2 linked regions of the Homo sapiens genome follow. The protein of the gene in region 1 interacts with the protein of each later gene in a biochemical or structural test. Each region holds a gene or a part of one and is shown in the gene's direction. Other genes may lie near its edges.

What was found.
Region 2: the proteins of ANAPC2 (region 1) and ANAPC4 form a complex in vitro, tested with the Homo sapiens proteins (one study listed by BioGRID).

The regions. Positions count from the first base shown.
Region 1 is NC_000009.12:137,178,396-137,182,060, reverse strand, and holds part of ANAPC2 (anaphase-promoting complex subunit 2), read left to right. Parts: intron 1-198; coding exon 199-380; intron 381-1,131; coding exon 1,132-1,273; intron 1,274-1,533; coding exon 1,534-1,609; intron 1,610-1,676; coding exon 1,677-1,880; intron 1,881-3,665. UniProt on the Homo sapiens protein: Together with the RING-H2 protein ANAPC11, constitutes the catalytic component of the anaphase promoting complex/cyclosome (APC/C), a cell cycle-regulated E3 ubiquitin ligase that controls progression through mitosis and the G1 phase of the cell cycle.
Region 2 is NC_000004.12:25,408,181-25,411,845, forward strand, and holds part of ANAPC4 (anaphase-promoting complex subunit 4), read left to right. Parts: intron 1-1,517; coding exon 1,518-1,611; intron 1,612-3,665. UniProt on the Homo sapiens protein: Component of the anaphase promoting complex/cyclosome (APC/C), a cell cycle-regulated E3 ubiquitin ligase that controls progression through mitosis and the G1 phase of the cell cycle.

The DNA.
Region 1 (3,665 bases):
CTGCTGCTCCCAAGTAACGTTGGGTTTATTTGTTTTTAAGGAGTCTGACGGGCCTGTGTTTAGTACATAGCCCATCACCACTGAGTGTAGAGGCAGGGTCGGTGGTGCTGGCCTAGATGGGGCCGGGACTGGAATGAGTGGTGGGAGGTGCGCGCGGGGTGTCCACACTGTGGGCCACAGCAGCACTCACATCGGCAGGACGCGGGAGGACACAGTGCGGCAGATTGTGGCTGGGCTGACGGGGGACTCGGACGGGACAGGGGACCTGGCTGTTGAGCTGTCCAAGACCGACCCGGCGAGCCTGGAGACAGGCCAGGACAGTGAGGATGACTCAGGCGAGCCAGAGGACTGGGTCCCGGACCCTGTGGATGCCGATCCAGGTTAGCTTGCCCCACATGGTCCCTTTCACCAGTGTGGGGGGCGCTTCAGCCAGGCCGTCCGCTCTGGACTCATCCCTTGTCACAGAGCTTGGCTGTGTCAGGTGTCGCTAGTGTCTCAGAGGCTTGAGGGTGTCAAAGGTCAGGGCAGTGCTCCGCCACCTGCCAGCCTGGGCAGGCCGGTGATGGGCTGTTTTCCTCTGTGGCTGGTCACTCTGGCCGTGGGGGATGCCCTGCCTCCCACCGCTTGTGAGCTGTGGGGTGTCCCTGCCCCGCCACTGCACCTGGCAGAGGAGTGAAGATGTGGGTGACCCCTGAGCTCTGTACTGATTTGGGCCTCAAAGTCCCGTTAGGGTGCCAGCTCCTGCTCAGAGCCCATCTGTGCCTGGCCCTCGTCTGCGAGGGCTCTGAGGGCTATGGGGCCCAGGCCTGGCCCCTGCCCTGGCACAGATGGTAAGTCTTCAACACATCTTTAGTCTCTCTCAGAGGAAAACCCCAGGACCTTTGGCTTGTCCCCTAAGCCTGCATGGGAGTCCCGGAAGGTCCCTGTGGGGTGAGAGGGGCTGGGGATTGAAGCTGTTGCTCCAGGACCTGACTCCAGGTCTCCCGGGAGGCTCAGGGCTGCTCCCAGCCTCGAGGGCCTTCAGGAAGAGCCATGCTGGGCTGTGCCGTCTGGCTGGGCGGGATGGGAGGAGGGCGGCCCTGTCCTTGCCCAGGTGCCTGTCAGGTGACACCCCTGCCCCCACCATGCCAGGGAAGTCGAGCTCCAAGCGGCGTTCATCGGACATCATCAGCCTGCTGGTCAGCATCTACGGCAGCAAGGACCTCTTCATCAATGAGTACCGCTCGCTGCTGGCCGACCGCCTGCTGCACCAGTTCAGCTTCAGCCCCGAGCGGTGAGGCCTGTGACGCGCTGGCCATCTCCAGGGGTGCCGGGGCCTTTGCCCAGCCTCTCTCGGGACAGGGCCCTGACGCCGTGCCTGGGGCCTGGTTGGAGCTGTGCTTCCGCCCCCACTCCTGGCTGGGGGTGTGCTAGCCATTGGGGTGCCCACACAGGCTCCCTGCTCTGCCTGGGGGGCACCCCCGTGCCCTGCCACAGGTGCTCCTTGGGGCTGGGGCTCATCACGACCCCCTGCCCAGACACTCGTCTTTCCAGGGAGATCCGCAACGTGGAGCTGCTGAAGCTGCGCTTTGGCGAGGCCCCAATGCACTTCTGTGAAGTCATGCTGAAGGTGGGTCCCAGCCCCGCCCGCTGCCCGGCCGCCCCGCAGGTCCCCCGTGACACCGGCTCCTCCTCAGGACATGGCGGACTCCCGCCGCATCAATGCCAACATCCGGGAGGAGGATGAGAAGCGGCCAGCAGAGGAGCAGCCACCGTTCGGGGTCTACGCTGTCATCCTGTCCAGTGAGTTCTGGCCGCCCTTCAAGGACGAGAAGCTGGAGGTCCCCGAGGATATCAGGGCAGCCCTGGAGGCTTACTGCAAGAAGTATGAGCAGCTCAAGGTACCTCCATGCCAGGCCACCCCATGGGCTCTTGGCACCCCTACCCTGCACTGCGGGGCTCCCAGCAGCCTGGTGCCTGTGGCTGCCCCGTTGTCACCCGAGTGTCTCTGGGTTGGTCCTGTCTCGCAGCCGCCTCTGCAGGAGAGGGAGTGGGCCTGGCCCACGCTCTCTCCGCCTTCCTCCCAGCAACCCCGTGTCCCCTGTGAGCGAGCGTCCGCGCGGCCCACAGGCGCTTGGGTGGGCTGTGCTGGGCCCAGGTCTCCTGAACTGCTTCAGGGGGACCCCTGTGGCCACAGCAGGCCCTGCCCTCTGAGCGTTTCCTCCTCTTTTGCTATCCACCCTCTGCCTCTCAGAACCGGGGCTTGGGGTGCCTTGCGTCACTGCAGGGAGGCAGCTAGGGAGCCAGGGCTGCCCTCTGCCCAGGGCAGCACTCCCAGGCGCACCTGACCCCCAGGACCCCAGCCCTGCCCCCTTCTCCAGGTCTGTTTCCTCGAGAACTGCCTTTGCAGGCTCCAGTGGTACTTGAGGACCGGGGCTATGGGTCTGTGGTGGGAGTAGGAGGGGAGCAGATGTGGGGAGTGGAGGAGTGAGCCCTGGCCTGGAGGTCACTGGCAGATGGGGACAGTGTGCCCAGAGGATGGTATTGGCCACGTTTGGCTCACTTCCCCTGGCAGCACTGCTGAGATCCCAGCAGTCCCAGTACAGGCGTCCAGAGCCTGAGGGATGGAACTAGGCTTGGCGGTTCTTTCCCTGAGCTCATAGTCAGGTGGGAGGTGTCAGCTCGGGGAGGAAGGGTTAGGATGGTCGTCACAGGTGGGAGGTGTCGGCTCGGGGAGGAAGGGGTCGGGATGGTCGTCACAGGCGGGTTCCAGGGCTTTCTGTCTGATGTGTGGGGCCTGTGAGGCCTCCAGTGTGCCCAGCGAGTGCTCAGGACTGGGGGGAGGCGGGCACCCCAGCGGGGGACATGTGAGGAGAGGGTTCTGGGGCACAGCCAGCATCCAGTCTGCAGACCCCAACCCCAGGTACCCCAGGAAGGGGATGGTCCAGCCTCGGCCCAGGCAGGAGGAGCAGCCTCAGGACAGAGCCGCCAGGAGGCCGGCGGGCGGGCGGGGCTGAGTTCAAGGGAGGGTCCACAGCTTCTCCAGGTCTGCTGTGAAGGAGGCTGGACCTAGATGTGTTTTCCTTTTTCTTTTGCAAGTAAGAGGGCCTTGCTGTGTTGACAAACCAAGGGAACTTACTCCTAGGGGAGGGCAGGGCGATGTGTCCACTTTAGAAACCAAGGGGGAAGCTTCCTTCCGGAGACAGACAAGGGGAGGGCCAGGCGGAGGCCCCCAGGGCAGGAGGCCAAGGGGCTGTGGTAGGGCCGGGCTGCTGACCATGGTGGCGAATGCCTGCTGCCTCCCTCCAGGCCTCAGCTTGGCTCTGGAAGAGTCCAGGTGTCCCTTGCAGCTTGTGGAGGGTCTGTGTGGCTTGCACCTGCTCTCGGTGGAAAGGAGCACCCTGGCCATCCCCACACCTCGAGCTCTGGCCTGTGATACAGCCTGGTGTCTCTGGAGCCTGCGGGCACCGTGCCCCGCTGTGTTCTGGTACAAATCATCCGTGTGGCCCGGCTCCGTGCTCGGTCCCTTTCCCCCTGCCCCTCTGGCTGCCTCAGGCTCTCCAGCGTTGCTTCCAGGCAAGGCCCCAATGGCCTCCCTCCAGGGTCCTGCCTTGGGTCCCAGGCATGACTCAGCCACTTCCTGTTGCTCAGGCCTGATGTGCTGGGACAGCCACACTCTAGTGCCC
Region 2 (3,665 bases), on another chromosome or scaffold:
GCTTTTTCAGATAATTGTGACTTTGCTTTATTATATCAAATGTGGACAAGTGATAGTATCTTAAAGGTTTGTTTCAGTGTGGAATCTAAAATTGCATCAGTGAACGTTTTTTACATTAAAATTCATTCATCTTCTTGCACTTTGAACGGATCTTTTGTCCACGCATAATTTTGTAACATCCTGCTTTGGTCATTTGGGAAGTATTGGTTCCCTGAGTCATCCAGCTGTTCTAAATGCCGCCACCTTTTATCAAACTATAAGCTAGATTTCATTAATAGCACCACCAATTTAATCAGAAAAGTCTTTGTGTTGTGAAGCACACAGGGGCAGATGCAGGTTTTCCAAAAAAAAAAAAAATTTTTTTTTTTTTGAGACAAGATATTTCCTCTGAGTAGTACAGTGGTGCAATCACAGCTTACTGCAGCCTCCACCTCTCGGACTCGCCTCTTGTAGCTGGGGCTACAAGCACACACCACCATGCCTGGCTAATTTTTGTCTTTATTTTGTGGAGACCTGCCATGTTGCCCAGGCTGGTCTTGAGCTCCTGGGCTCAAGTGATACGCCTGCCATGGCCTCCTAAAGTGCGGGGATTACAGGCATGAACCACCGTGCCCAGCCTATTTTTGCTTTTAACATAAGTGCTTTTCCTCAAGATAACCATCATACTTTGTGTAGCAAAAGTTCCTATGTATAACTCTCAATTCTGTCACACAGAATATTAAAGATTCGTACTCAAGGGTTGAAAATAAAGTTAATAATTTAATGACTTCATTAAAGATAAATGAAACTATGAGTATGTGGCAGAAAAAGAATACAGTGACTGCTGGTATGATTTGGGACTACTACCTTGACTCTTGGCTGAGACACTTACAGCTTTCCCCACCATCAGTACAAATGTTAGCATAGTGTAAAGGGCAGGTGACAGCTACATTATTATAAAACTAGTATTGACTTTGTGGATCCCCAAAAGCATCTTGGGGATTCCCAGGGGCTTGTGGATCTCACTTGAAGAACAACTGCCATAGAGTATATTGACAGTACATTGACAATGGATACTTATGAAACTAATTTATAACTTGCATATGTTAAATTAAAATATGCTCATGAAAAAGAAACACAATTTAAGTTCGATTTGTGATCTCTACATCTACAACATAATAATCTTTTAATACTTTGTGGTTTGTTTAGTTGCTTGACTAAACAAACTACCAACTGTTCAGCAGTTTCTTTAATTTTTAAGATAGTAGCTAGCTAACATTTATGGAGGGCTTAATTCTGCCACATACACATAGCAGATTTTGGCTACCTCACTTAGAATGATAGTAATGCACTTTCAGAGGACTTGGCAATAAAACAAAGTAACTTATTAAGTTAAAAAAGTGTTAAAAATAAACCGATTTTAGGCCCTAAGTCTTTGATTTACTAAACTTAACTTTTTTTTGTCTTTTACTTTTTTTCTTTTTCCATTTTCCCTTCCAGGTATGAATAAACTTAAATTTCTAATTCTGTATTTCTAGTACTTGAAAGATGAAGATGATGATCTTGTGTCACCCCCTAACACAGAAGGAAACCAGTGGTATGACTTTCTTCAAAATAGCAGCCACCTTAAAGGTACTTCATGAACCAACCAGATTTTGGCCATTTTTGTTTTTATTTAAGACTAGGTCTTGAATAGTTCTGCTAACAGTTTTGCTGAAAACTTGCTGAACACTTACCTAAGTTTATTAGACTTATATTTATTTGATTATAGGAACAGCAAAATAACCAATAGTGTATGACATCACCATGATAGATAGAAGACACTCTGAAGTTAACTACGCTGTAGGAAGATTGCTTATTCCTAAGTGTTCTCATATAAGTGTTTTGCACCCTGTAAAAAATAGGATTTTGAGGGAAACTATAGAGCCAAATAGTGAGAAAAGTCTTTTTTGCCAATTCCAATTTATTATCTTCTGAAAGCACAGGGATGCTCAACTGTATTCTCCTCGGGTTGTAGTTGGTGTGTGTGTGTGTGCATGTGTACTTGTTATACCTTTCATTTTCTAGAATGTCAGAATGTTAATACCGTAAAGCTATCCAGCATTATTAGGGATGCAGCACATAATAGCAACCATTAAATATGCCAGCACATCTTACCATTTTAGATGAAAATATTTTAAAGCTCGTATTTCTTTGATGTCTGAAAGAATAATCTGACCAGATTTAGCAATTGCTTAGATCTTTAAGGTAGTGGGTGCTTAGTCTAACTAAACATTTATGGGGTGCTTAGTCTGCCATATACACACAATACCTGCTTTAATCCTCACAAGATTCTATGGGTAGGTACTTGGTATCACCATTTACTAATGAGGAAACAGAAGGTTAGAGAAGCCCAGGATCACACAAGCTGGTTAGTGATGGAGCTAGGATTCTGTTAATGTGAAAGCCTGAGGTTTTAACTAGACTGGCAGTACAGGTTGAGCATCTTAATCCAAAAATCTGAAATCTTAAAATGCTCCAAAATCTAAAACTTTTTGAGCACCGACATGACACCACTAGTGGAAAATTCCATACCTGACCTCATATGATGGGTCCCAGTCAAAATGCAGTCAAGACTTTGTTTCAAGCACAAAATTATTAAATATATTGTATAAGATGTACATGAAGCATAAATGAATTTCGTGTTTAGACTTGAGTTCCATCCCCAAGATATCTCATTATGTATATGCACATATTCCAAATTCCAAAAAAATCCCAAACACTTACAGACCCAAGCATTTTGGGTAAGTGAAACTCAACCTATAGCAATTTCTGCCACTTGTATTTGGTTGCTGCTTCTGTGAATGAATGAATGAATGAATGAATGAATGAGGGAGAGAATTCTTTGATGCCAAGAACTTTGCATATAGTCCAAATTCTTTTTCAAGGCAGAACCTATTATGTATTGCCAGAGAGTCTTGAGGTCAGTAAGGAGATGCATTGGTGCAAGTTGGCTATTGAATGGAGGGAGGATAAAGGTACAGGAGACGCTACTTATTTACTGTATTTAATCAGGATGCCCAGGGAATAAGGCAGGATGTCTGGAGAGGGTCAGTGGCAGTGCGTCAAGAGTAGTGGCACCTGGACCCTGTTGCTATTTTGGCTATTATTGATCCAGGGAACTTTGCCAGGCTAAAAATAGGTCCTGTCCTCTTTTATTTGCCCCACATCTTACGTGTTTGAATAAGAAAGGCCTGATCTTAGCTACAGACCTAATGGAACTCACTATTGAGTTCCATAATGAATTCTAGTGAGGAAATATCAGTGAAACTGTTTTCTTACACTGCAAAAATCAAGTGCTAAATACTTGATCTGTGTACTTTCTTTAGGGTACATGGGTCAGTATTGTGTGGTGGGTAAAAGTTGGTGCTCTGAAAGCTGGATTTTCTGGGTTGGAAGCTGCTCTACTACTTCGTAGTAACACGGCTGAGAGCAAGTTGCCTAACCTCTCTGTGCCATAGTTTCTCATCTGTAAAATGAAGATGGTAATAATGCTGCCCTCAAAAAACTGGTGTGGAGATTAAATAAATTAATCTACATAAGCACTTAGACTAATGCCTGGCACTTAGCACAGAAGCAGTCTGTAGGTTAGTGTCTGAGCACTTTTTACTCAGTGTTTCTGACAACAAAATGAGAGAAATTTTTTT